Regions from separate parts of the Homo sapiens genome. Here regions 1 and 3 are each linked to region 2. Evidence: fine-mapped expression QTL. A gene starts in region 2. Each other region holds a variant in brackets. All regions are shown on one strand. Distances are from middle to middle. Region 1 overlaps MDFIC (MyoD family inhibitor domain containing). Region 2 holds the start of MDFIC (MyoD family inhibitor domain containing). Region 3 has its middle 26 kb from the start of LINC01393.

Evidence for each region. PIP is the estimated chance that this variant, and not a neighbour inherited with it, causes the effect.
Region 1: its variant is the best candidate, but not a certain one, in a credible set for the expression of MDFIC in skeletal muscle (GTEx, PIP 0.88).
Region 3: its variant is the best candidate, but not a certain one, in a credible set for the expression of MDFIC in monocytes (BLUEPRINT, PIP 0.86).

The regions. Positions count from the first base shown.
Region 1 is chr7:115,015,816-115,023,125 of GRCh38, forward strand. It overlaps MDFIC (MyoD family inhibitor domain containing), which reads left to right. Exons shown (of 5, transcript NM_001166345.3): 5 at 1-4,102. The coding sequence ends at 120. Among named protein-coding and RNA genes, the nearest start is that of LINC01393, 59 kb to the right of the region's middle. The variant A/G (reference allele first, on the strand shown) is at 2,617.
Region 2 is chr7:114,914,427-114,924,763 of GRCh38, forward strand. MDFIC (MyoD family inhibitor domain containing) reads left to right here and starts at 7,668. Exons shown (of 5, transcript NM_001166345.3): 1 at 7,668-8,210; 2 at 8,501-8,701. The coding sequence starts at 8,608. RefSeq lists an enhancer at 1,877-1,966 and silencers at 7,608-7,747, 8,078-8,127, 8,138-8,317, 8,548-8,687.
Region 3 is chr7:115,047,613-115,059,013 of GRCh38, forward strand. No RefSeq gene overlaps it. Among named protein-coding and RNA genes, the nearest start is that of LINC01393, 26 kb to the right of the region's middle. The variant A/AT (reference allele first, on the strand shown) is at 5,959.

The sequences.
Region 1 (7,310 bases), 100 kb after region 2:
ATGGGGGATGATTGTAACTGCCCTTGTGATATGGACTGTGGCATCATGGATGCCTGTTGTGAATCATCAGACTGCTTGGAAATCTGTATGGAATGCTGTGGAATTTGTTTTCCTTCATAAATATTTATCTTTTGTTTGTGTTAAAACTGGAGAGTGTTTAAAAATTTCCTTTTGGGGGGAAGAAAAGCACATTGTAAGATTCTCATGAAACAACATGGAATTTGCACTGTTAACTCATTATTGTAAGTAATCTCTGAAAGCCTTTTTACTTTAACCAAATCTACATGGTTTAATATGTGAAATTTTAACTACTTTAACTAGTTTTATAAATTTCTTAATATGTTACAATAACTTAGGGACATTTTGACACCCCCCTTCCCAAATGTTAAATGCCTTCTCCTTTTTACCGATATTTCTGTTTCTTTTAACCGTTCTCAGGAGCACTTTGCTCCAAATATATTATTTTTCAGTGTGTATTTAAACGAGGCAGTTTATTTTGATATGTATCTATTCATGATTGAAAGGAAGCAGTCTTGGCCAGGCACGGTGGCTTACACCTGTAACCCTGGCATTTTGGGAGGCCAAGGTGGGCAGATTGCCTGAGCTCAGGAGTTCGAGACCAGCCAGGGCAACATGGTGAAACCCCATCTCTACTAAAATACAAAAAGTTAGCTGGGCTTGGCGGTGTGCGCCTGTAGTCCCAGCTACTCAGGAGGCTGAGGCAGGAGAATTGCTTGAACCCGAGAGGCGGAAGTTGCAGTGAGCCGAGATTGTGCCACTGAACTCCAACCTGCACTCCAGCCTGGGCAACAGAGCGAGACTCCATCTCTAAATAAATAAATAAATAAATAAATAAATAAATAAATAAATAAACAAACCAGTCTTTATTTTAAAAGAAACTTTAGGAAACAAACCCACATAATAGTTGGGAACCAGTGTTGATCTCTCTCCCTTACCTTCTCCACTTGTTCAACAGACTCTGAATGCCGACTGTGTGGACTCTCTTCCTCAGACTGTGGGGACAGATACAATTCCACTCCTGTCCACAGGAACATGAGATTTAGCAGACTAAGGAGATCTGTAAAGAATGAACCATACCACAAGGCATACTGAAGTGAGGATTATAAGAGAAATAAACTCAAAATGCTGTTGGAATATGCAGAGAATTGCTACCAGAATATTCAGTAAGGTTTCAGGGAGAATGTGGCATTTGAGGACTCTCTTAGAATGAGTGATTCACCTGCTATTTAAATGAATTATTTAGATTTTTGACAAAGATTTAGGTGGACACCCTAAACTGTGTGTGCCTTTAACCAGTTAAAAGAACAGTGCCTTCAGCATACTTTTTTATTAGTTGTAGGAATACAGCTTTTTGAAAAAGCTATAAAGTTTAAATTAACTAAAAATATGCATTTTCTTACACATAATTTAAATGTTATCATACTTTTTTGATGAAAACATAATGCCTTAGTAAAATAGCTCTATTTAATAAAGAAGATTGAGTACTCTGACACATTTCATTTAAATTAGGAAATTTTTAATATTAAAATCCCAGTGTTCTGAGTTATTGAAAGGCTTTCTTTTATTTTGAGAGCTTTAGGTCTTTTTGGGATGAGAACATTTTAGTTGTTTAGTTTGTTTCTTAAGCAGTGCTATTTTTTGTAAACACAGATAAATGGAAACCATTCTTTTCAATGCAGAAGAAATCTAGATATCCCCTACTGTGACCAAATTTCTGTATTACGATTTTATGTTAAATTAAACTAATATGGCAGGTTATAATGATCCTTAAGTGTAAAGAAATCAGTCAATTACAAGAGTAATTGTATAGTTATTGAGACCTATAGTGTGTGGCTTAGATGAAAGGGAGAGTAAATTTTCATACCATGCTCTCTCCTACTCAGTTTGATCTCTCTAAAATTGTAGTTTGGTTTGATTTAATATAATTCTTAGTAGAAATTTTGAAAGTATGCTTTGGGATTAATAATTATTTTTAATTTTTCTGGCTGAATATCAAATTGATAGTAACAACAGAAGCATAATTTTAGGAAGGCTTTCGCAAACCTAGCCTTTTAAGAGAGGTTTTTAACCTGAAGCATGAGAATATATCACCTGTGGTTTTTCCTTTGAGATGAAACGTAGTTTCTAGTTATATCATTACTTAAAGGGCTTAAAAAGAAAAAACTTAGCAAACTTTTGAATCTTTCTTTTATTGCTATTTACACATACATACACACATACAAAACCTTTAAATTTTGGGATCTGAATATAATTCTGGTAAACAGCTGTCTTCATTTTTCTCCTCTAAAGAACTTAATTCATTTGTTACATAAAATATAAGGAAATCTTTATACTATTTTACAGTAACCACAATCTAAATATTTACATATACCCAAAATTAACTTATGCTCATATATTAGGATGTGAGAATATCATCTGTTTATGGACACATGAAACCTCCTAATGACCTGGAATTGTTAGAATATTTGACTTTTTATATGCAAAGTTTTTCAACCAAGTGGTTTGTCTAATATTTAAACATGTACTGGCACAATTTGTGATGAAAATATTAGCACATTTGCAATAATGTTTCTCCATAACAGAGAATGTTAATGG[A/G]TACCAGAATTTTATTTTTGTATTTATGTTCATAGTACTTTTCCTCTTGTCTACTCCAGACAGTTATTCCATAAAGCATTTGTATAATTAAAAGGAAAACAGAAAAAGGAAAAGTAGGCAAATGTGAAAATAGTTTCAATATATCTTATGATTTCTTAATGTAAAATGTTTTGTTGAAGTATATGGCTATCATGACTAAGTGCTAGAATTTATAGTTACAGGCGGTGTCCTTTTAAATGTGGAAAGGCTTTTAAAATATTTTAAAACTGGACCTGTATTATCCTGAATACACTATTTTGAAAATTTTTAAAAATGACTTCTTTATTTTGCTTTACCGTATGTTTATATCTAATTGACATATTGACTAATGTTTGAAAGAATTCAACCATAAGTTAAAATCTGAAGGTTATCTTTATCATGTTTCATCCCTGTCTGAAGATTTCCTAGTCTTCTTATGTAAATCACATGACTCATGTCCGTAAATGAACTATGAAAGATATCGATCAGTTTATGATCATTGACATGTGATTTCAAAACACAGTGTTCTTTTAAAAATCTATAATATGTCAAAATACAAGTTTTTTTTTTTTACATCGTTTTAGTAAGTTAATTTCATTTATTTACTTTGGAGCTATATTTCCACTTAGAAAAACTAAGGTAATTTTACAATATATGCTGAGATTAAAAACCAAGGTAAAAATGATCAAACATATATGAAATTGAGTCTTAGATTTAATGAATTTCACTCGAAAATAAATGATCAGAAGAATTTTCATCTAAGGCATAGAGTGGCGAAATTTTTGTAAATGCTCGCAGTTAGCATCTAACTAAAACAATACAGTATGACTTTATTTAGGAGAAGGCTTTTTATTTAGAAAATTATTTTTTCATTTTTACAGTGTATCAACTGTATCCATTTTCCTCACCTGGATAGTCAATGTTATCTGAGCAGTTCAAGGAGTAACCAAGGCAACCTTATGTAATAACTTTCCATTCTTTATCCATACAAACTCTTTCAGTGCCCTAGATTCTAATGTTATAAACGTCAAACATCACTGCCCAACATAAATAAGACTCGAGACTTATTAACATAAATAAGTATCTTGCCTTCTTGAATGCTAGTTAAATGCTTAGATTTACCTAACTGCCTAATGAATCAGGTTATTTGTTAATAAGATTATTTTTCAAATTATTTAAGACCTTTATGCCCCTTCCAATTACTTGTGATTTGTAGGCCTGTAGGATTGTTGCATCTAATCTGACTGGCAACAGAAAATGTCATCAAATACTATAATATCCATTTTGTTTTCTTTTGCACTAATACAACAGAACATATCATTTTTGTTTTAAACAATGGTTAATATATTAATAGGGTTTGTTCCACACTTACTATTTATAGTTTTTATAATCAAGCATTGGGTATTAAAAGAGAATCCTTTCAACCCTTCATCTTCGTATGCTTATACAATAAATTGCAGTGAGTGTTTTCTTTGTGCTTGGATTGATACTAGACACCTCAAGAAAGTCACATAACCCTCAAGAAGTTTCAACCCAGGGAATAAGTTTGGCACCTCCCATGAGAAAACAGTTTCAACGGTGAACCTGCCAGTATTTACTTCCTTATTTAAGATTGCTTTTAGAGTTTGTTTAAAATAGAAGAAGTTGTGGAGAGGGGATACTATTGTAATGCAGCCCTAACATGGAGGGTGGGTGTTGCAAAAACTGTCATTGGTGACTAAATCTTCTACATACATTGCAAAATTCTCAGTGGACAATGACTGCCCCTTTTAAAACACTGTAACTCAAAATATCATATTTATGACCAAATTTTTATGAAGACAATAGACAATCTGGAAATGAAATAAAGCCGCAGCGGAGCCCCACCTGGAAAGCAATGTCTCTATGCAAACAGAATCTGCACCACCTATTCTTCACCAAGCTGTCATAATAGCATGACACTTTCCACTAGAGCCTCAGCTATAACACTTAAGCAGCTAGATGTCAAGTTAAGTAGCTTCCTGCCTTCTGACTGAACTGTGGCTAGTAGTTCTGCTTCCATTGTTTGTTTGTTTGTCTGCTTATGCCCTCAATTCCTTACCACATTCCATTTAGTGCTCACTGAAAAGGAAGCATTAATTTAGTTGTGAGGTGACCATGAAGAAATCATTTCAGATAACCATCCTTTGACACATTACCAACATGGGGTATAGATATATGTGTTAAAGACAAAGTATAGCTCTGCAATTAGGTGTTCACTTCCAGGCAGGTCTTTGTGTGAGGTTTAGTTGAGAATGTAATTATTAGGAAAATGGTGAAAAGCAAATTCAAACAAATTCTAAGTTTAGCTTGAAAAATGGAAAAGGTTCTTAAGTTCTGTCTGATGCATAAAGGGGTAGAAGCAAAGGAATTATGCTCCAAAGCCAAGAAAGAGGGTGTACAAAAGCAGCTGATCCACTTGACATAGTTCATAGCCTTTTGCAAAGGAATAAAAGCCTGTTGAGCAGGGAACCAAAAGATCTCATTATAGGATGAAGCCAAGCCATATTAAAGCTTGTGCACTAGTAACTATGTCTAAAAACAGCCTGCTGTTTTATATTGAACCAATACATTTCTTAACTTGGTAGGTTGCAGTGTAAAGATGTACAGAGCCTGTCTGCTGGATGCTATGCCAATTACAGATGTGGCAGAGTGGTGTCAAACACCTACAAACAGTTAGATCGCAAGCAATCTTAGAGTGAAACAAAAGAAGTTTTAAAATGTCACCTCAAAACCTAGTTAATCGTGTGTGTTTGACTTTTAGAGTCTTGAAATCACCTTTATTATATAATTTCATGTGGACGTCATATGCTCCCTCAATCAGAATGCACAATTCTTTCAAGGACATGAATAGTGCCTGAGAGATAAGGAGAATATCTTTTAAAAGTAACATCTTTAGATGACAAGGTGTCTCTGATCAGCTCTGCAGAAACTGTGTTTTATTGGTGCTGAGGTGAAGGAGGAGTAAAATACTCATGAATACATATTATATTAGATTTTGTTAGATCATCAAAAAGAATAATTGGGCATATTTACACAATTACATTTTAGTAAACTGTTATGCCAGCCTAACTATAATACATATTCTGGTAAAAGTACATTAAATCGCAATCCAAAAGCAATTTAGCAGCTGAGGACATTATTTTTTATCTAATTATTCACAAATTAATGAATAAAATTAAATTCCAATCACTGAAGAAAATGAAGCAATGGTGAGAATCAGAAGTACAGATTAGTTAAAGCAAAGATATGCAATGCATAACAGAATTAAAGCATTTCTTTTATTCAAACTCAGTGCTTAAAAAAGAACAAATCCATCATCTTGAAATTTGACTTGTAGCTTGACATTAAAAATAATATGAGTAGAATTTTCAGTGGGGTAAGCACAAAACTAGTTCAAGTTGTGTCACTCTCAATTACTGTACTCAGGTGGTGTACCCATTAAAATTCCCACTTGTGGGTTCCGCTCGCTATGCAAATGGGGTCATTACCCGGAGAATTTAATTGGTTATGACACTGGGAGTAGGACTTTTCCTTTCAAAATAAACCTACTTACACACATTTTTGCTAGAAATTTGATTGTTATATGTAGTTTGCATTGTTTTGCTCTATAAATATTTACAACAATTAGACTGCCCTTACTTATTTTTTACAAATAATTAAAAATGGGTCCAAATTAATCTGATATGGTTTATTTGTCTGTAAGACTAGTTAAAATGAATCTTTTGTAAGTCATATTGCTTATCAAAACATTATTTTAAAAAGCCTTTGTATCTTCCCAACCATACATCAGATGTGGGTACATTTCCAGCAATGTTTTTCATCATTTAATAGTAACATTTTCTCTTTTATAATAGTTCTAAATATTTAATTTGAAAGGTTTCTTCTATTTTTCTCCTTTTTTGTCACTTTAAAAAATACGCAGCTAAAGAGTTAACCTACCCTTAGATTATATATAAAACATATAATATGTAATATTGCTGAGGAGCCATGTCTATAACATTTCCAAGGTCTTTATATTCACTGATAGCACTGGATGGGGTCGTTATGTTGTCAGAGTCAGTCCTAGAGATGCTTCCACTGTTAGCCATGAGACTACTAAATTTAAAGCAAAAAAACACCAAATTGGTGTGAAAAGCACAGGGCTCCATACAATTTTAATTTATTGTGGCGACTTCAACTAGAGAACGCTGTTTATTAGCCACCTATCAAAAATCTTGATAATGGCCTGAATTGACAAGGAACACTGAAATTACAGTGTGGTTTAATGGATATGATATTAAAATGAACATCCAAGAATTGAGTTCCTGGACACTGACTCTAAGAGCAGTTCCCAGAGTGAACATAAAGTAGGAACAGAGTTGCTGTAAGTATTAATGGGATAATCTCAGGGAAGCACTAACAGTTTCTTGAAAGAGACGGGTTACACAGTCTAAATTTTTATTACTACATCAAGCTGTACAACAAGCCAAGGTTTTATCACTAGTTTATCTGGACCTGAAGGGAATATGTTTCCTTTAATGTAAAAAGGAAATCAGAGAGAAATAATTCCAAGGATATAGAAAAGGAAATACTATAAATTTATAACTGGACCATTGGGCAGGATTTTTAACATCTGTAACTGTGGGGAATTTCCCATAGAATATCAAATATGGATC
Region 2 (10,337 bases):
TATTAATTGGTTCTGAACAAAAATTACATTTTGCTTCTTACATGTTTCACTAAGTATCATTTTTAGATCTATTTTGTTTCTACATGTGTTTATCATCTGTTCCTTCTAATAGCTACACAATACCCCATGCTCTTCGTCTACATAATCAACTTTCTGATTTCCAAAGGATGGCTGCCTAGGTTGACTTCAGCTCCCTGCTATACAAATAGTGTGGCAAGAAATAACCTGTCTATGTCTCCTTGTGGTCCTAAGTTCATTTTTGAGGGTCTGTGAAGATAGAGACGTAACTGTTGGGGGTAGAATTAAGAAGATCATGAGTTATTCATATACTTGTATTTAACATGTAAAATCAAATTTATTCCGTATAATGCTTGGCCCAGATTTGCACACTGTCTAAAGTTGAGAACCTATGGTAACAAGAAAAGAATATAGAGCTGCAAGTGCCGGGGTGACAGATGGGCTGTTCGAAGTAGGAGAGAGAAGAAGGATGGGAGGTGGAAGGATATTCAGGAAACCTTCACTTTTTCCCGGAGTTCATTATAGGTCCCATGCTTGGGTGAACAATATACAGTCATGCATAGCTTAATTGATGGGGGTATGTCCTGAGACATGTGTCACTGGTTGATTTCATTGTTGTGTGAGCATCATAGAGTGTACTTCAACAAACCTAGATGATATAGCCTACTACACCCTTAGGTGGTATGGTATAGTCTACTGTTCCTGGGCTATAAACCTGTACAACAGGCCAGGCATGGTGGCTCACGCCTGTAATCCCAGCACTTTGGGAGGCTGAGGCAGGTGGATCACGAGGTCAAGGGTTCAAGACCAGCCTGGCCAAGGTGGTGAAACCCCGTCTCTACTAAAAATACAAAAATTAGCTGGGCGTGGTGGCAGACATCTGTAATCTTAGCTACTTGGGAGGCTGAGGCAGGGAGTTGCTTGAATCTGGGAGGCAGAGGTTGCAGTGAGCCGAGATCATGCCACTGCACTCCAACCTGGGGGACTGAGCAAGACTCCATCAAAAAAAAAAAAAAAAAAAAAAAAAGAGAAACAAAGAAACCTGTACAACATGCTACTCTACTGAGAACTGTGGGCTATTGTAACACAATGGTAAGTATCTGTATATCTAAACAAAAAAAAAAGGTAGAGTAAAAATATGGCGTAAAAGATAAAAAACGGTATGCCTGCATAAGGCAGCTCTGTTACAATCTTATGGGACCACTGTCATATATGCCATCCATTGTTGATTGAAACATTGTTATATTGCTCATGACTGTAGTTTTGTTGCAATCCTGCTTTTTAGATTTAGCATGTATTTCTTAATACAAAATTTGGAGAAATACGGGCACTGATTCAAATGTCACAGTTGATATTTTCTTTCTTTATCTGAGAATTTAAATGAGTTTAGGGGTTATAGTAACAAAAGAATCCTCATCTTCTACACCATTTTAAACATTTTTGTCATGATCATCATGCTAACATTATTTTCAACTGCAGTTTCAGCAGATCAGTCATTATTTTCAGGAGCTCCTTGTATTTAAAATTTTCCACAATTTTCATTCTCCTGGTATATCTAGGTTCAGTTTCTAAGTATGAAGCAAATGTCTACTTATTGTCTACTGCATATGTTATGGCCATTTTCATTTCTGTCTTCAGTCATGTTGCTTTTATCTGACAAGTACCACTGTATGCCTTAACATCTCCCTCCCTTCCTTTAAAACACAAGAAGGAAAGTACAGTGACAGCAAGGAGAGACCCTGAAGGCCAGTGCCCCAGGCCAGAGAAGTCAGCCAACTGAAAGGGACACTAACTGAGACCTTGGAGAGGACTAATTCAGCAACAAGAGATTTTATGCCTGGTTCTTTGGTTACCCATTCACAACAGAAAATCTTTGGAACTTCAAAATATAACAACAGGCATGACCTTACTTCGCCATCACTTAGAAATGATGGATTCATTTACGTGCATTATCCAGATAGCTGGAGCAAGAAGCCTGGATGACAAGAAATTTAGGCTCCTAAGACTGGCTCTGTAATTAATCCACGAACTGACCTTTGCCAAGTCATTTAACTTCTCTGGGGCTTTCACATTTCTTTGTCTTTGTAAGTGTTATTTCCATCTGGAATTCCCTAACTTCTTTGACAGGCAAATTTACTCATCGACAATACTCAGTTTGGTATTATCGTCTTTCTGAAATGTACCCTGACTCTCCCCACCTACGCCTGAGCTGAGTTAGGTAAGTGCTACTTCCTTTTTGCTCCTGCAGTATGGTAAGTGTTTGTGACTGTTCTGCTGCTACATTGCTGCCTTCTTCTGCCTCTGGCCTTATAGACTATGAACTCCCAGAAGACTAAAACAGTATTTCTTCTATACTTGAAACTCTAGTGTCTGGCATGTGGTTTGACATGTAGTAAATGTTCAACATATGTTTGTTGAACCTAGTAAGTAAACTTTATGTCTTTGTATTTTTCTATATGTTAAATGAAGGAGTTGGGTAAGACTGGTGATTTTTAAACTTTTAAAAAGCGGAAGAACCAGTTGTTTCAGTTAAAATTTAAGAGAAGGACTAATACATTATGGAGAAAAGGAAGAAAGTGCTCTACTCTAAGAGCAGGGTTCCAGAAACCTGCGCACCTGACCTTCCCTGCACCTGATTGCACCTGACACAGTACTAGGAGGTGGAGGAATGCGATCCATACAGCTTGGCCTGGAATTGTGATTGCTAATTTCCCTTGCAGCTGTAAAATTGTCATTCTGTGGAATTTACTCTTTCAAGTAGCAACCTTTTTTTAAAGGAATTTTTGAACATGTTTGAAAGAGTTTTTCCTGGAATGTAAAAAGATTGACCCGACCCCCTAAAAACAGAATATAGCACTCACATAACTAACTGACTCTTTCCTTAATGACTCAGGCTCATTAGGAACATTGACTATTTCACGAAGCTGAATTCACAAAGGCGTTGTTACAACATGTTTATTTTCCTGTATCTTCCTTGTCTGTCAGCTGTCATCTCTCCTGCTGTCAGTTTTTCTGACCTAATAGCTCCCTTAGCTAATCCCTTCTCCTCAATCTTCCTGCGCCCTAAGTTTTCTTCTTCTAAAACAATGTGAGCTGAAACAGTAGAAAATAAAGTTTGATTAGAGGTGTGTATTCACAAAAGAACAAGTAGGATTTGAGAAGGATTATGTCTTTTGTGTTGGCAGTTTCTGAACATCATGAAGGTTATTTTAGGTATTTAGTATGTTGCTGTTATTTCCTGGTTTCTAGGTCATTGGGTTTGGGGATTGCCAAAGTGCTGCTTCTAACATAAATTAGGTAAATATATTTTCCAGAAAAACTATCCTTGATATAATCTGGGAATGACTCCTTAAAGGATTCAAAGCATTTAAAAAGTTTTTTTTCTAAACAAAGAAACAAAGTATTTGAATGTGAACCTTTAATGTATGTTTACTTATAAATCATACCCAAGTACTTTTGTAAGAATGTGCAATACACTGTATAAAAACATACTCAAAAGTAGAAATTAAAAATTATAACATAAAAACATATATAAATGCTCACTCTGATATTTTCTGCCCACATTTCAGTAGATTGTCTTATGCATCCCTTGGAATGCCCTTACAATTACACACCCCAGTTGTAGACCTCTGGTTTAGATATCTGTGTATGGGGATTAATTTTGACTTTACTAGGCAAATAAGCCTCTGCCCAAGTGAAAACTAATTTAGCTGCTTTTCAAGACATCAAATCAAATTTCTTTATCTCCAGAGCCTAATATGTGGCCTAGCATATAGTAGATGCACAATAAATGTTTGATGAATGTTTAATGAATGAATGATGAAGATTAAGTAGTCCATAAGGATGCTTTATAAACTCTTTTAATTAGTTCTTTATTTTATTTGCTTAGCTCATGTCAGACCTCTTTCACAATGTGTTCACATATTATTATATCATCATTAGTGTACACATCACTAGGCAGGAATGGTTGTAAGGCACACAAGAATTTCAAAGGCAAGGGGCTTTGATCCGGGGCTAGGACATTGAGTTCCACCGGCAGGCTGATACCCCTAAAGAATTTCCACCTACGCAGATTAAGATAGCTTAAGACATGGCAAAATCTAGCTTAATAAAGACAACCCAGGGGGATCTGGGGTAGCAAGTGGGACACTGACAGTAGTAGTACTTAAACAGTAGTGGTTCTCCAAGCCAAGCTGATAATGGTATTATGTCACTGGGAAGGATGTGGAGAAAAGGAGAGAGGCCAGTAAGGATACACGTGGATTGAGTTCCAAGGCACAGCTGCGTCTCAGGGCTTCTGCTTTTACTCTGCACACTTGCCTTGGACATTCTTATAACCTGCTAGTCAGCAAAGTACCATGTATATGCTTATAATCCAGTCCCATGTCCAGCAGCCTATGCAGGACAGTTCCAATTAGCTGTCTCACACATGCTGCATCATTTGCATGATTAGCTCAGCAGCTTTCCCCAAAACTGGCCTCTCCTGAATGTTTTCATCTCTGTAGGTCATACCACCACCATCAACCTGGATGCAGAAAGCTGGTAGTTGCTCTCGATTCCTCTAGCTTCCTCATCCTTTATCCCTATCTACTTGGCTCCATTCCTTCTGCCAGCCATCAGCCCTGGCCTCCAAATTGGACTCCCTAGATCCACTCTCAGTCCTCCAAACAATTTTACGCATAATACCAGAGTGGCTTTTATAAACAGTAATTTAGAAAATATGTCTCCCCCTGCTATAGTCTGAATGTTTGTAGTCCCCCAACATTCATATGTTGAATCTTAATCACCAAGGTGATGGTATTAAAAGGTGGAGCCTTGGGAAACACTTGTATGTCTTTTTTTTTTTTTTTTTTTTTTTAAGAGACAGGGTCTTGCTCTGTTGCCGAAGCTGGAGTGCAGTGGCCCACATAGCTCACAGTAACCTCCAACTCTTGGGATTAAGTGATCCTCCCGCTTCAGCCTCTAGAGTGGCTGGCTACAGGAGTATGCCACTATGCCCTGCTAATTTTTTAAAAACAATTTTGTAGAGATGGGGTCTTTCTATGTTGCCCAGGCTGGTCCTAGAGTGCTGGCCTCAAAAGATCTCCCTGCCTCAGTGTGAGCCACCACACCTGGCCTCTTGTGTCTTTTTGTAAGGACATTAATTCCATTCATGAGGGCTCCACTCTTATGACCTAACTACCTCCCAAAGGCCCCACTTACTAACACCATGACATTAGGGGCTAAGATTTTAGCATATGAATTTTGGGGAAACACAAACTTTCAGTTCGTGACACTGAGTGAAAGAATGAGAGATGAACGTACTGGAGTGCTTGTCAGTAAACAAATGAAGCAATCAGAACAAGCAAGTGCAGCCAGGGATGTGGGAAATGGGAGGCGTGAGGGACACTCAGGAGCCCACACTTAACTTCTGGCATATCAGACACCAGGTTAATGGCATTAAGACCACTTCTAGGTCCTCCAGAAGGAAGACCTGAGTTACCTAGGGATGCAGGATAGCCTGGAAGAGAGACAGACCTGAGTTCTAATCCTGAAGGTACAATCCTGGCAATTTACTTATAGGGCCGATGGAAGAATTCATTGAGATCATTTGCGTCAGGTGCATGGCATGACAAACTGGTATTTTGATATGACCCTTTTGATACAGTCATTATGCCATGCTCAGCTTTACCCATCAAGATGCTTCCGTGTATAATAGTAATAATAGTTGATACTTTTGAACACCTTTTCCCTTGAGAGTCTTCCAAATTTTATAGGAAAACTACCTTACTTAGTGCTCAAAAAGAAACTCTATGAAGAATTTCATTCTCATATTATGAGGCAACCAAGGTATAGAGTGGGTGACTAACTGTCCAAAGTCACACAGCTGAATGAGGTACAGTATTTGACAACCTTGGTGATGCTACCCTACAGCTTCTCATTTGCTCCTAATGTTATTTTAATTTTATGTCTTCTCCATTAAAGATTTTAAAATTTAATTTAAGGAATATCTATGGAATCACCCACCACGTGTGCAATATTAAGGACTGTGTGAAATTAAATGAACAAATACTTATCATTGATTATGACTTTCTAGAAGAAAGCTGTAACTTCTTTATATTATTGGACTTTAACATCTTTGTGAGAGAATTTTAAAAATAGGGCAAGGAATGATACAGGGATAAAACAGAATTTTCCAGAGCAGGTAAACAACTCCTTTGAGTGCAGATGATGCTGCAGTGAACTCTGAGACGTCCTAAATGTTTGTTCTCTAGTGGTGATGAAGTCATCTTCAGAACTGATCTGCTTCCATCAGACAAATTCCAAACAGTCCAGGCTCCTAGATAAGTTTTCAAGAGAGGTAATGCACTTGATTTCATACCATTTCTGAAATCTCCAAGTGAAAAAAAAATGTTAGTTATGTGTAATGGGGCAAAATGTCATTTGTCTTTTTGGGGAGAATGGTCTGAATGACTGTCATCAGCAACTTTGAAGGCTGTTTTTTTTTTTTTTTTTTTTTTTTTAAATGGAGTCTTGCTCTTGTCGCCCAGGCTGGAGTGCAATGGCACAATTTCTTCTCACTGCAACCTTTGCCTCCTGTGTTCAAGCGATTCTCCTGCTTCAGCCTCCCAGTAGCTAGAATTACTGGCGCCCGCCACAATGCTCAGCTAATATTTGTATTTTTAGTAGAGATTGGGTTTCACCATGTTGGCCAGGCTGGTCTCGAACTCTTGACCTCAGGTGATCCACCTGCCTCGGCCTCCCAAAGTGCTGGGATTACAGGCGTGAGCCACCGCTCCCGGCCGAAGGCTGGCTTTTTTACCATCATTGAAATCAAGTTAGAATGCACTGTCTCTTCATAGGTAACAAGTAAATCTTTGTAATCAATTGGAATAAATTCCAATGAGCTTTTTGAAAAAATGAAATTTCTGGGATATTATTAATGATGCACATAGAAAGACAGTGAATCCAATGCACATTTTCTTCAGTTTTGATAACGTTACTGTGATTCCTCGCTTGTCCAAAAGAATCGAAGAATGAGTTCGTTCTAGCTTTCTACAAATGAATTCTGCATTTCATTCACAATGAAATAAAAGAGCAAAAGTTATCTGAGTATACCACTAAAGTACTATATATCTGTAAATTACTTTACACTTGCTATCCTCGGCTCATCAGATTAAGCTACAATCAGAATGTCTCATTTATAAACGGAAAGTTGATCAGCTTTTTACTTCCGACCACAAGTTTATCTCCCCTCAGATACCACTGATCCAGTGAGGCATTTAGCTTGCCATAGGCCAGGCTGGGGCCAGTACCACGGCATCCGCAAGGGTGCCAACCTTGTTTGCCTGGATGCCTCCAGCAGATTCGCGCAAACTGCAACTGGTTTTACATCAGGAATACTGTTTGACCAAAGAGTAATTTAGGAGCCAGAGATGAAGTGAGTAAACGTTCAACCGAGGGGTCAAGGTTTCAAACGCACACGTTCTCTATCCCACCAGGAAAGTTCGATACTGTAACAGTGTTTTCGTTTTTCCTTGTCCACCCTAAAGGTTTTCGTCAGGATATTCCCAAAGCCTCCGTCGGTCTGGGGGCAGGAGTAGGGAGAAGGGATGAGGTGACTTTTTGGGCGGGGTGGGGGGAACGTCTGGGCAGCCAGGGACCTGCCCATTCACTCCCCTTTCCCAGCCCCGGGAGGGCGCAGCGCCCGGGTGGGGAGCCCGAGCCAGCCCAGGCCGGCTCTGGCCTCCTGACCCAGACAGCGCAGGGCGCGAGGGATCGCGCGGCCGAGCCCGGGTCGCGCCGCTCCCAGCATCGGGGCCGCTAGCCAAGAGTTCGAGGCCTTCCCGATCCGGATGTGATGAAAAAGAGCAACAGAGGGAGAAGTGTTTCAGGATTGTAGGAGTGGAAGAGGGGAAAGAGAGGCAGAGAGGGGGAAGGCCCCCTCGCAGGGGAGCCGGCTGGAGTGAGCTGGCTGGAAAGAGGGGGCGGAGTGCGCGGAGTCAGAGCCGCCACCGCTGCCGCAGTTGCCGCCACTGCGGCGTCTGGGCTGAGCCGGAGGGAGGCGGGAGGACGCGCAGGGGCGGCCGCCGCCGTCGTCAGGCCACCGGGGCGAAAATGCGGCCGCTGCCGGAGGCTCGCTAACTTTCCGGGGCGGAAGAGGAGGAGGAGGAGGAGGAAGGGGCTTGGAGCGACTACGGGGGGATGCGGAGGTAGGTAGTGGTCTCCGGGCGGGGAAGAGGAGGGGTTTGATCCCCATCCCCGGGGTTCTCCCAAACCCGATCTCTCTTTCCAGCCCCTCCCCGCTGGGTCCACCTCGGACCCCTGGGACCCCGCCGCTGTCAACTTGCGCTGTAACAGTTTTCTTCGCAAGTTTCAAATCAAAACTTCCCCGGGGTGGAGTTTGAGGGAGGGAAGTGGAGGGGGAGGGAACGTCCCGCAGGGGTGGTGTGCTCTTCTCTAAAAACATTTTTTTTTTTAATTTTGTATATTTTTCCGCCAGAAGCAGTCAGTTCCCTGCACCCAGCACCTCACAGCCCTTCCTCCGTGCGCCCTGCCGGGCGGCGAGCTAGGCGGCAGCGGCGCGGCGCGGGCTCGGCGGAGCGGCCCATGTCCGGCGCGGGCGAAGCCCTCGCTCCCGGGCCCGTGGGGCCGCAGCGCGTGGCCGAGGCGGGCGGCGGCCAGCTGGGCTCCACAGCCCAGGGTGAGTGCGCGCTTGCAAGTGGCAAGCTTCTTTGTCATTGTTGCATTTTTCAGTTTGCTCACAAGTGCACAGATAGGGGTGGGGGGAGTGCTGTGAGGAGGGGCTCCCACTCGTAGTTGAGAACTTTTGCACAGTTCGCGTTACTCAGGCAAGTTCTTCAGGATCCTTGCCCTAGATCAACAACCGGGTAAGAGGGCGGGAACCGTTGGTCCCTCCACTCCCCCTTCCTTTGGTTGCGAAGAAACAGGATGACAGGATTGCTTCTTTCTTAAGCATATGCATGTTTGGGCCTAAGACTCAATGTGTAGGTTCTGAAGCGCTTCTCCTCTAGGTCTCTTCAGCAGATCCAGGACTGCCGCAGCTCTCTGAACAAGCGTGCACTTACTCCATTTCATCTTTCTGTTTCTTGTTGGCTCCTCTACCACCCGGTTGATAATTCAGGTTTCTGTGACCAGTAGCTTTGGAATGGCTTATGCTTGTTTTCAATAACTGGTTTGTTTTGAAATAAATAAACAAGGTTTATAAGAAACACTTTCCAAGAATGAATTAGCTTCTTTGTGTTCTTCCAAAGTGTAAACACACACAGCCTATAAAATACTCTTGTGTCTGGGAAACTTCCATAACAAGCTTCTAAACGAGTTGAACCTTTCTTCTCTTGAAGGCAATATACTTTAGGTTTCCATTGGTGACAGAGAGGAAGGTTCTTAAACTTCTAATGCATTTTACTCTAAGGATGGTTTTGAGCTAAAGAATTCTGTCACTGATATATCAGAACTAAGTAATTTTTCCAGTGCTCAAAAACCTAGCATATACCCCTGATTTTAGGCATAAACTGATAGCTTTATTTCCCACTTGTACTAATGTAGTGAATCTTAGGGATTTTTTTTAAGGCAGCAAAAATTGGAGAAGGAGTTAACTTTCAAGCTGCAATAGGTAAAAGCAGAAAACATCTTGGTTAAATTAAAATGTTCTGGCACCCAGGGCTGTTAAACTGAATTACATTTATCATTATTTTTTGCCTCTAAATGAGTGACTCAGCTTTCTAAACAGAAAATAAAAATGATTAACTGCAGAAAATCAGAGAACTAGAATGATAAACATATGTTTTCTGAGAAGCAGCCCGTGTTCTCCACCTTGTATTGTCAGCACAATCATTTTCCTGTCATTAGGCATGCCCTTAGTAGTCATATCGACTCATTGATGGGCTGTTTATGCTCACACTTGAGCTGCTAATCACAATTGTTAAACCAGGCTTATGTCAAAAATCAACATCAAACACCCAAGGAAAATAATTTGACCTGGAAATAGCTAATATCTACAATATCCAACTTTAATAGTTTGCATTTCTAAAATCATCTGGGAGAATGTGCAGTGGTACTTAATGTACCTGTGCATTAGGATGCTGGATGGTGTCATGTGATCTGAACTTAAGAACCCGAAAATCTAGAGTGGCCTGAAGTACATTTGTTGGGTACAACACACGTTATCAGTGTAGAAACTCTTGGGTTATATTTTACCTGAAAATTGCCTTAGCTTTAGCAACATAGTTATACATTTTTATTATTATTAGTTTAACTTTGATCCAAAACTTTCTTTAAATAGGGATCAGTTTAATTTAAATATAAAGTTGATTTTT
Region 3 (11,401 bases), 130 kb after region 2:
AACACACTGCTGTCTTCCCTCGGCATTACTCTCATCATTTTCTTCTCCACTTGTTCCACTTCTGTCCTGTGTATGTGGGAGGGGGCTGTATAGAAGATGTGAGAGGAAATTTAGTAGAATGGCAGGGTAGGGGGATGTCAGGGAATCACACTGCTGAAAAAAAGGCCTCCACAACTTCTAAAAGAAAAAAGGATAGGCTGTACTGGTCTTTGCATTTTTTTTTCAACATAACCACAAAAGTTAACTTTTTTTTTTTCCAATGAAAGCTTTAAAAAAGAAATAAGAAATATTGCCACTTATCTTTGAATTTTGATACCATCCAGTTCCTAGAGTTGTGTCCCAAATTCATGAAAATTCATGATTTGTTTTCTAAACAGTAGAGAATGATTTATGTAACTCAAATCCCATATTTTCTAGTAAGACTAGTGTCACTTTGACCTTGAAGAACTGTGTGAATTGTAATGAAAATAAATATTTCGATAAAGCATGACATCATATCTTGATTCATTGTGTGTTGTGTATGTTTAAGGAAATACTAGTACTTCCTTCTGATAGTTTTAATACCTTGGGAAATATGTTGACGTTTGCTTTCTGCTTGCCCCAGGGTCATGTTTGGAAATTCCACTCAGTATTAGAACCAGATTTAGTCGGTCAACAACAACACGGAATGTTAAATTTTTTGTTTTTTGGACTAGATAACACTTTTTAAATATTCTCCCTATGCCGGTCATTCTGGTGAGAAATATATATACAGATGAACACCAAGGAAAGTAAACTGTTGACAAATATATTGAAGAGTAATTTAATATAGATCAAATACCTTACATATAAGATCTTTCCACTATCACTTTCTGCAATTCAAGGCTACAGTTTAATCTGTCTTTGATTGTGTGTTGTTTTTTTTTCTGGAATGAAGGGCTGGAATTATATAATTAAAACAACCTGCATGTGCTAACATAAATTTGATTGGTCTAGACATAAGGATTAAATTTAATAGTAACCATGATAAGCTTTGAGGGTAAATAATCAGACTTTCGGAGGCCATCTACTTCATACTTCATAATCATCAGAAATATTTTACATTCATTACAGAACTTAGCATAGTTCCTGGCAAGTATATCTAGAAGATAGATAAATATATGCTTTTGTTGAATGAATAAATTAGGGATATACCAAGCAAATGAAGTACTTAACAAGTTTTTCTTTTCTTTTCAAAAAGATATTTTGATTCTAAGAGAAACAATGCTTAAAAACAAGCATGTAGTGGACGACTAAGACAACTGGAAAATAGGCATTGAACAAGCCATAAACTGACAAAATTAACTGCTCTCTCAGCCCCGTTAGTGAAACACAAGTATATTTGTGAGTAAAAAGGGTATGTTGCTAATGTCTCAGCTTTCAACACCTAGTGCCTTCATTCAGTAATGCACACAAAGTGTTGTAGGTTTATATTTAAAAACCTCAGAGGGCGATTCACAGTTACTCTTATTAACATATTCTAATACTAGTGAGAGTTCTCTTTCTTTCTCTCTCCAGGTATAGTATATTATAATTGGTTTAAACAAAGTCCCTCTCTTGTTTTATCTATTCATTTATTTTCTTTTGTCCACACACCATACTCCCATTCTTTCTCACTCAATCATCTTTGGATACATTCTATCAAATATCTTATTGAATTTTTGCATATAGTTTTAAATTTTGTAAATGATATTGCTTATTGAATCACCTATATTTTCTACTCAGAACAATAATTTAGATCTAATTGGCTGAGTGCAGTGGCTCACACCTGTAATCCAACACTTTGGGAGGCCTAGGCAGGCAGATCACTGGAGGTCAGGAGTTCTAGACCAGCCTGGCCAACATGGTGAAACCCTGTCTCTAATGAAAATACAAAAATTAGCCAGGGGTGATGATGCATGCTTTTAATCCCAGTTACTGTGGAGACTGAGGCAAGAGAATTGCTTGAACCCGGGAGGCAGAGATTGCAGTGAGCTGAGATCGCACCTCTGCACTCCAGTCTGGGTGACAGAGAAAGGCTCTGTCTCAAAACAAAACAAAACAAAAAAAAACAGAGTTAGATCTACCTATGCTGCTCTATGCATATCTATATATATGTGTGTGTGTGTGTATATATATATATATATGAAGTAGTTTACTATGACTTGGCAAAATAAGATAAAGGATGGTAGGAAAAATGTGGTGGTAATAAATAAGATGAAGCTGGAAAGTCATGAAAGGTTTTCCTAGAACATGGTAGGGAATTTGTATTTTAAATTTTCGGCCACAGTTTCCATTAGATTCACCTGAGATTGAGAATTTATACTCCTGGACCCTAACCACAGAGATCTGACCTACCCACCTGATTTAAATTAATTTTTCTAATGCAATAAAGTTGATTATGTTTCTAATTTGTGTCATGTTGACTTCTGCCCTTGAAATTAATAGTAGGGAAGTTGTTTCATTTCTAGATCTGGGTTTTAATACCTTGAAACTTGGGAAGAGGATAGTGCTTAGAACAGTGTTTAAAACATAATGTCAATAAACTTTTAAATTTGAGGATGATTGGAGCTGGTTATATCATGTATCAACCAGTCATCTGAGCCTAGGTCAAGGCTATTACAATTTTATGTTGACTCTGTCCATCTCTAAAGAAGAAAAATGATCACCTCATCTATCCCTTTCACCGTCAGTATCTGGGGAAAAAAATGACTATTAGTTCAATAGGCTGTTGGCTTTTAAAGTAAATAGATGGATCATAGATGATAGAAAGATGATAGATTATATAGATAGATACATAGATGCATAGATAGATAGATAGGCTAAAACCCTGAAATAGACATTTTAAACCAGTTATTCACATAATCCTTAGGCATGTTAAAGTTTGAGAACTTTTTGGCAATGGGCAGCCATAAAAAAGTATCATATATTTTAGAACTAGCTTGTCTAATACTGTAGCCACTAGCTACATGTGGCCATCTAAATTAGCATTAATTGAAATTAAATACAGTTGACATACAGTTAACATTTCAGTTTCTTTGTTGCACTAGCCACGTAGTATGTCCTCAGTGGTCACACGTTTCTAGTTGCTACTATATTGGACCTTAAAGATACAGGACCTTCTCAGTATTGTAGAAAGTACCATGGTGAACTATGTTTTAGAAAGATCATTCTAGTGGCAAGCAGGGAGGGTACACTAGGTGGGAATAAGCCTATAGTCTAGTTGACAAAACATTTTTTGAAGTCAAGAAAGAGTGTCCAGAAGATAACAATTACTATTGTTGAGTACTGCTCAGCAGTTAAGGATAGTGAAGATTAAAGTTATTCCACTTGATTTGGCTATCAGCAGGGTTGGTAACCTGTCAGATCAGCGTCAGTGTTGCTGGTGGAGACCAAAGGCAGAAATGGGAGAAAGTGAAGGAGGCTGCAATAGAGAAAATATACTTTTAAGAGGCTTGGCTGTCAATGGGACAAGACAGTGCATAGAGGGAAGGAAATGCAGAGATGTGGGAATTTTATTTTAATTGTAGGTGGCTTAATTAATTTACAGACTAGAGAAAGGGATGAGTACAGAAGGAAAAAATGAAATTACAGGATTAACAGCACACATATTGGGTGACTTTAAGTATTTAGTGGCCAAGGAGGTGATGACAATGGGTTTTCTTTTCATATCTAAAACAGTTTTCATTGAGAAGATAAGAAAAAAAAAGAATAAAACATCTCAGAAATGAATAAAATGATTTGAAATCAAAGAAATATTACTTCAAAATCTTAGAAGCATACTTCAACAAATGTTTAGGAGTACATATAATATTGTTAACATGCCTCAAGATACAATGAATAAATACGACAGCAATACGGAGCATGGTGCTGCTGGCTTCTGAGAAGCAACCTTTCATTAGTGATACCAGATACGAGTTTCCGAAGTGAAGTGGTGAGCAATTGGTTGAATTTCATGGTACAGACTGTGTTGGAGAACTTTAGATGAGTAAGAACTGTGATAATCTAAGGAAGCTTTTTGGTTAAGACTCTAGACTTTGAAGGACGGCTGGCATTTGTAAAAGTAAAATAGTAGAAGAACAAGATGAGAGGAAGATGAAAAAGGTGGGAAAGAATCAGTGAAATTCTGATTTATGAAGTGAAAAAATTTGCCTTGACAATTATAAAAAGGAATTTGGATTAATGTAATAGCAAAGATAAAGTCATTAAGAAAGTTTATTTTCCACTTTTTTATAAATTAAAATACTCATTGCATTGAATTTGGAGGATATGAAGTGTAGGCTGGGCATGGTGACTAATGCCTGCAATCCCAACATTTTGAGAAGCCGAGGTGGGAGGATTGCTTGAGCCAACGAGTTAGTGACCAGCCCTGGCAACATGGTGAGACCTTCTCATCTCTATGAAAAATAAAAATAAAAAAATTAGCTGGGCATAGTGGCGTGCATATGTAATCTCACCTACTTGGGAGGTTGAGGTGGGAGGATGGCTTAAGCCTGGGAGATTGAAGCTGCAGTGAGCCATAATTGTGCTACTGCACTCCAGCTTGGGTGACAGAGCAAGACTCTGTATCAAAAAACAACAACAACAAAAAAAAAAAAAACAGAAATAAAAGAAAGAATAAAAAAAGAGTATAGAGGAAAAAAACCAAAAACTACTTGTTATCCAGCCACTGGGATTGGTTATTGATATTTTATTACATTTCCTTCAAATCATTTCATATGTATAAAAGTATTATAGCTTATAAAATTTTAAAACATACTGTGCTATACAGAATAAAGGGCCCCAAAGATATCCATGTCCTAATCCCTCAAACCTGTGAATATATTAGACTATATATTGCCAATTTACATATTACATGTCAAGGGGGAATTAAGGATGCGGGTGGCACTAAATTTGCTAAACACTGATCTTGAAATAAAGTGATTATCATGGATTATCTGGGTCTGCCCAGTGTAATCCTAAAGCCCTTTATGTTGGAAGTGAGAGAAGAGTCCATACATATCAGAGTAATAAAATGCGGTAAAGACTATCCATTAGTGCCTTTGAAGATGGAAGGGGGCCATTACCCAAAGAATGCAGGCAGCCTGTATTAGTCTGTTCTCACACTGCTATGAAGAAATTCCCAAGACTGGGTAATTTATAAAGGAAAAAGATTTAATTGACTCACCGTTCCACATGGCTGGGGAAGCCTCAGGAAACTTACAATCATGGTAGAAGGTGAAGAGGAAGCAAGGACCTTCTTCACATAGTGGCAGGAAAGAGAAATGCAAGCGGGGAAGATAGCAGACGCTTACAAAATCATCAGATCTTGTGAGAACTCTCTTACTATCACAGGAACAGCATGGGGGAAACCACTCCTATGATCCAAACACCTCCCACCAGGTATCTCCCTCAACACCTAGGGATTACGATTCAAGATGAGATTTAAGTGGGGACACAAAGCCTATCCATATCAAAGCCCTAGAAGCTGGAAAAGGCAATAAAACATGAGAGCTTCTGAACTTCTTTATAGCTTCTAGAAAGGAAGGCTGATTTGCTAACACCTTTTCAGCCCAAGGAAACCCATTCTAGACTTCTGACTCCCAGAACTGTAAGATAATATGTAGTGCTGTTTTAAGCAACTAAGTTTGTGGTATTTTGTGTCACAGCAACAATAGGAAACTAGTATATGCTATATTTGTAATTTTACATTTTATAAAATTTTACATTCAATTGTATGTATTTTCCTATGGCCAGTATTGTTCAAGAATTATATGTTTATGTCTATATCAAAATATCTTATATAACCCATAAATATATACACCAACTATGTACCCACAAAATTCTTTTTTTTTTTTTGAAATGGAGTCTCGCTCTGTCGCCGAAGCTGGAGTGGAGTGGCGCGATCTTGGCTCACTGCAAACTTCGCTTTCTGGGTTCAAGTGATTCTCCCGCCTCAGCCTCCCGAGTAGCTGGGACACA[A/AT]TTTTTTTTTTTTTTTTTTTACAGAATCATATGTTTAATGGTTGTGTAAAAATCAACTACTGGATCTATTGTCGAACACTTAGGTAATTTCTCATTCTCTGTTTTTGTAACGAATTATTTGAAAACACTTTCATAAACACATTCTGAATTTGTCCTTTCTTAAGAAAATGAATAAAACTTTAGTTATACTGCCAATTGGACTTAAAAAGGCACTTAGCAGGTATTACCAGATTGCTCTTCAAAAAGGTTGTACCCATTTGACATCCAACCTAAATAGCCCACTGACAGTGGATGGCATTGCTGAAAAGAACTTTTCAAAAATGATTATGGAAACACGGAATCTCATTTTTAAAGACTTTTATTTACTCTTTCTGGTTTGTCTATCTTAGAAGTCATTACATTTTTGATAAACATAATTTAATTTTCATACAATCAAAATTATTGACTTTTGTCTTTTATTTTTCTAATAATATTTGCACACTAAATGATCCTTCCTCTTTAGGTGCTAGGTTATATACACTGTGGACCTTTGAAGTATTTTGTTTATCAATGAAAATAGTTTTTAGAAGAGTCTTAGGTAGGATCAAGTAGGATCATAGATTTTGGAAACATTGACTTGGGGAAATGGACACATGATCAAGTGGAAACTAGGAGGTATTTGGAGGTGGGGAATTAGAGCTCAGTCTAGAGGAAGGGTCCAGCAATATGGCTTTGGATTTGGAGAAGAAAGGAGGCAGCTGAACTAAGAAAGAGGATAAATTATTGGAAAGAGATATTTACAAAGAAAGGAACAGAATCTTCAGATGTGGGCAATTCTCTTCACCCCTTCCAAAATCCACCATGTGTTGTATGCACTTGGATATCAGTTAGCATGGGGAAGCAAGTGTGGATATCACACCACAAAACCCCTTCCTATTACTAGCAGTGAGCTCAGAGCACATCTTCATGAGAGTTATGCTGCTCTCCTATATTTCCACAGCCTGCTAATAGGTTGTTTGCTGCACCTTCAGTCCCTTCTCAACATAGTTCTAATTCCTTTGTGACAATAATATGGTTCCTATGCCTAAAACCTCAGGTAGAAGCCCAAGTTCTTTCCAAGAAGGCTTCCAGTCCCGACTGAATTATCTGTTCTACTCACATCCACTCTGCTCTCTGACCTTATTGGTTGACTGCACTTCCTCACTTATTCCTGCTTTCCTAACTATAGTAGACTCTGCTCTTCCTCAACAAGCCATTCACACTTTCATTGCAGTACCTTGGCCTTTTGCCTGTTATGTGCCTTCCCCCTTATGACTTGGTTAATGACCTCAGATTTCTTGAATCTGTGCTCACGTTTCACTTTTTCAATGAAGCTCACCCTGACTATTCTATTTCCTCCTCTGAGTGAAACAAAACCTAAGACCCTCACTCGCTTCCTTCTTTTTAGAAGAAATTAACAGGGAAGAGCATTGCATATTCCCTTTTAACAGACTGATTTGCTACATTGAGTTTTCTGTTTCCAGCCCCACCAAGGCAGATAGTATGTGCTCAAATAAATATTTGTTGAATTATTTATTTCCTACAAACTGATTAACTTCAGTTCTTTCTACTGTTTATGTTAAATAGCTTTGCCATATTTACTGGAGTTCAGTTTCAGGCCATTAAGAATTCTATTTTTTATTTTTCTCTTAAAGTAAACTTATTGGAGCAGTGGTCCTCATGTTAAGATTTTTATCATTTTGTATTTGCATTTTATATAAACCTCTCTTTTGCTTGTGTAAATGACAAGTTTCTGGGAAATGGTGCTCACCAGCATCTCACACCTGCCTTATTGATGTTTGATGCTTGATTTATTTGTCTAGTTCATTCATAATTCCTTGATAAATTTGGCAGAGCATTTCCAATGGTCTGGGGGCATTTTCTATGAACTTGCTGGCGATGTGACTAGTTCCCCCTGGTGTTATAGCTTTTGAGAGGCTAAAAATAAAAGACTGAATTATTCCTTTACCTGGCAGTCTTTATTGCTGCATTTCATCAACTCAATCCTACTAAATCATTAATTTGTTTTACTCACATGCTTCTACAGGCATGATGAAGAGGGATCTGCAAAAATGCCACAAAATAAAGTGCCTTCTTTATTGCAAACCTGACATTTGTATACAACAGAAAAATTCTCTTGTAAATTCTCTTAAATTTTTCTATAAAACAAAGGCCTGGCCTCCTACATTTGAAAATGCAATAAAATCACTCATATCAAAATAAATTTTTAAATATTGTGGAGAAGTCTCGCAATGCCACCACAAGACTTCAAGAGCATTTATACAACCAGTGGATGAAGAAAGGCTCAAGAACAATTCTGTGACTCCTCCTCTTTTCTTTTTAGATCTAGGCCACTGTCTTCTCAATTTTCTAGAAATTCAGTATGCTAGTTTCCTTTGGTATCTTCACAAAAGGATCATATTCCATGATATTGAATTTTAAAATTTAGAGCTAGAAAGAAAATTAGAAATTATTAGTACAATTCTCAGATTGTCTTTGTTTGGGCTGCTATAATAAAATACCACAAATTAGCTTATAAACAACAGAAATTTATTTCTCACAGTTCTGGAGACAGAAGTCCAAAGTCAAGGTGCTGGTAGATTGGGTGTCTAGTGAGGGCTATTTCCTGGTTCACAGACAGCAGACAGCACTTTCTTGCGACGTCCTCACATGGTGGGAGGGGCAAATGAGCTCACTTGCTCCTGTTTTATAAGAGTACTAATCTCATACATAAGGGCTCTGCCTTCAACACTTAATCAAAGGTTCTACCTCCTAATACTATCAACATGGGAGTTAATATTTTAGCATATGGATTTTGGGAGAACATAAACCTTCAGAACTTAGTACACATCATTTGGAACACAGTCTGGATCACAAGGCATTAGAATCCCTGTCCAGTGTCCTTTCCAGACTAATTATCAGCTTCCATATTTTTCAAACTTGAAGATCTACAGCTAGGAGAAAAAATCTAGTTCAGACTGTTGCTGTCAGGTGGATAAAACATTATTTTCTCCAATTTACAGATAAGGCAACTGAGATCTAGAGAGTTTATTAACTCCTCCAATGTTATAGTTAAATTATTGCTAGAATTCATGCTGCTCAATTCTCCAAGCCCTCCAATTTATAATTACATAAACAAAACTACTTAACATTAACCATAATTGCAACTCATCTCAATTAATCTTCTACTCAATGAATTGTTATTTTATTTATAAATATTTAGAGAATTTTTGTCATTGGTGATAACCTAAGTTCTGGATTTCATATTTTGGAACATTCTTCTAAGTATAGGCACTGTAATTTTTTGGTTGCTCATGAAATATTTATTAATGCTAATGCCAATAAAAATAATGCCATGGTGATTATACTCTTCAGTCATTAATGCCCTGAAAGAAGTAATTTGCAAATTGGTACACTGTCACTCAAAGTGTTAATTTACCACATGTGGGTAACAAATTACTCCTGGAATCAGGCTAGGCACAATTGTTGAGGCCCTGGAGTTTTTCTCCCCTGTAGCATTCACATCCAATCAGTTTCCAAATCTTGTAGAGCTATTTCTATAGGCATCTCATCTGTCCTTCCTCCTCCCTCCATGATACTGCTACTGCTATCATCTGAGTTCATTTCTTTCTTATCTCTTGTTTAGTGAACTGTACAAGTAGCTGGTCATTTTGCTGTTATTCAGCCTCTGTCCAAAACCATCCTACACAGCTGCCTGATGAGCATTTTCAAAACACAGTTTTGCTTCTTCATTTGCTCCTAAATAAAACTTCTTTTGCACACCTTCATGTGAACACACATGCACACACATATACAATGAGTGCCAACTTTAGTGCACTTTTGAATCTGCCAGAGAACGATGAAGAGTGTGGCCTTGTCAGTGGAATTTTATAAAGCTCCCCAGATGATTCTAATGTGCCCTCAGGGCTGAGAACCATCTTTTAAACTTATTAAAAGAGGCAAATTGTTGTAGAAGGGAAAATAACTTCTAGGAGTCAGGAGATTGTTCATTTCTGGAATTTGCCATTGGACAAAAGCATGATCTCCAGTACATCAAATACTACCACTGAAGCTCATTTCCTCACCTGTAAATGTAACATTAAGAAATTGGGCTAGGTTAATTTATTTAGCTAACATTAACACAGCACTTATTATTACTTGGCTCTGTATTTGAAGCTGAAAATCTAGTCTTTGCTCTAATCAACTTTACAAAGCACAGAGAAAATGATAAAGAAAATAATTACAAATTATCGAAAAAGCTATGAAGAAAATAATTGATGATTATTATAATAAAAAATATGGGGTGGAGATAGCCAGTAAAGACAATAGTTAGCAACCAAGATTTTTGCTTTTCAGATGACCCTGATCTCAATCTTATAAAAATCAACCAGGTAGACCACACCAATAGAAAGTAACAATAGTTTCCTGAAGGGCTTATTATTTGACTAATAGAATCTCATAGATTAATAATTCTTGTTTGGGATTCTGCTTCATTTTCCCTTTCACTTTATACAGTCAAGTTTTTAGGAAATATATTTAATCCATTCTTTTGGATACTTTAATTGCAGCCAAAAAAAGTTGGTTTAGGGTGACTGAACTTAAAATAATCAATTGTCCTCTATAATGGGGCTGTAATAGAAATGTCCAATTTGGGGCCAGGTCTGGTGGCTCACATCTGTAATCCCAGCCCTTTGGGAGGTGAAGGTGGGAGAATCACATGAGGCTAGGAGTTTGAGACCAGCCTGGGTAACATAGCAAGACCCCATCACTACAAAAAATTTAAAAAGTTAGCTGGGTGTGGTGGGATATGCCTGTAGTCCCAGCTAATGAGGAGGCTGAGGTGGGAGGATTGCTTGAGCCCAGGAGTTCGTGGTTGCAGTGAGCTATGATTGCACTACTGCACTCCAGCCTGGGCAACAGAGTGAGACCCTGTCTCTAAAACAATATCAACAAAAACATCCGAAGTTAAAATAGAAAATAGAAGTATCGAATTTTTCCTTACTGGGGATTGTTAAAACTGAGTCCATCGCTTCTGGAGCACAGTCACTTTTTGAGGCAATATAAATCTCTCAAACTTATAAATTATCCAGCTATTGGTAATCCTTAGTTTTTCTTCCAAACTGGCAGTGCAAAAATGCAATGCTCTTTTCCTGGAATCATCTTTGTGTGGTTTATTATGGCGGGAATTCTAAGGACCCCCTTAAGCCTGTGAGGGGGAATACTGGGGACAATTCCTAGGGTTCGGGTGCTTTGTGCTTTATAAGCTATTCATGAAGTAGACAATCTGGATCCTTGTTAACAGGTCCAAATGGAATAAGACAAGAAGTGTGAGCCAAAATTCCAAGCCAAGTGGGTCTGGAACCGTGAGTGGCTGCCAACTGGAAGAATCCCACAAATCAAGGAAAAAGCAGATTATTGAGGGTGA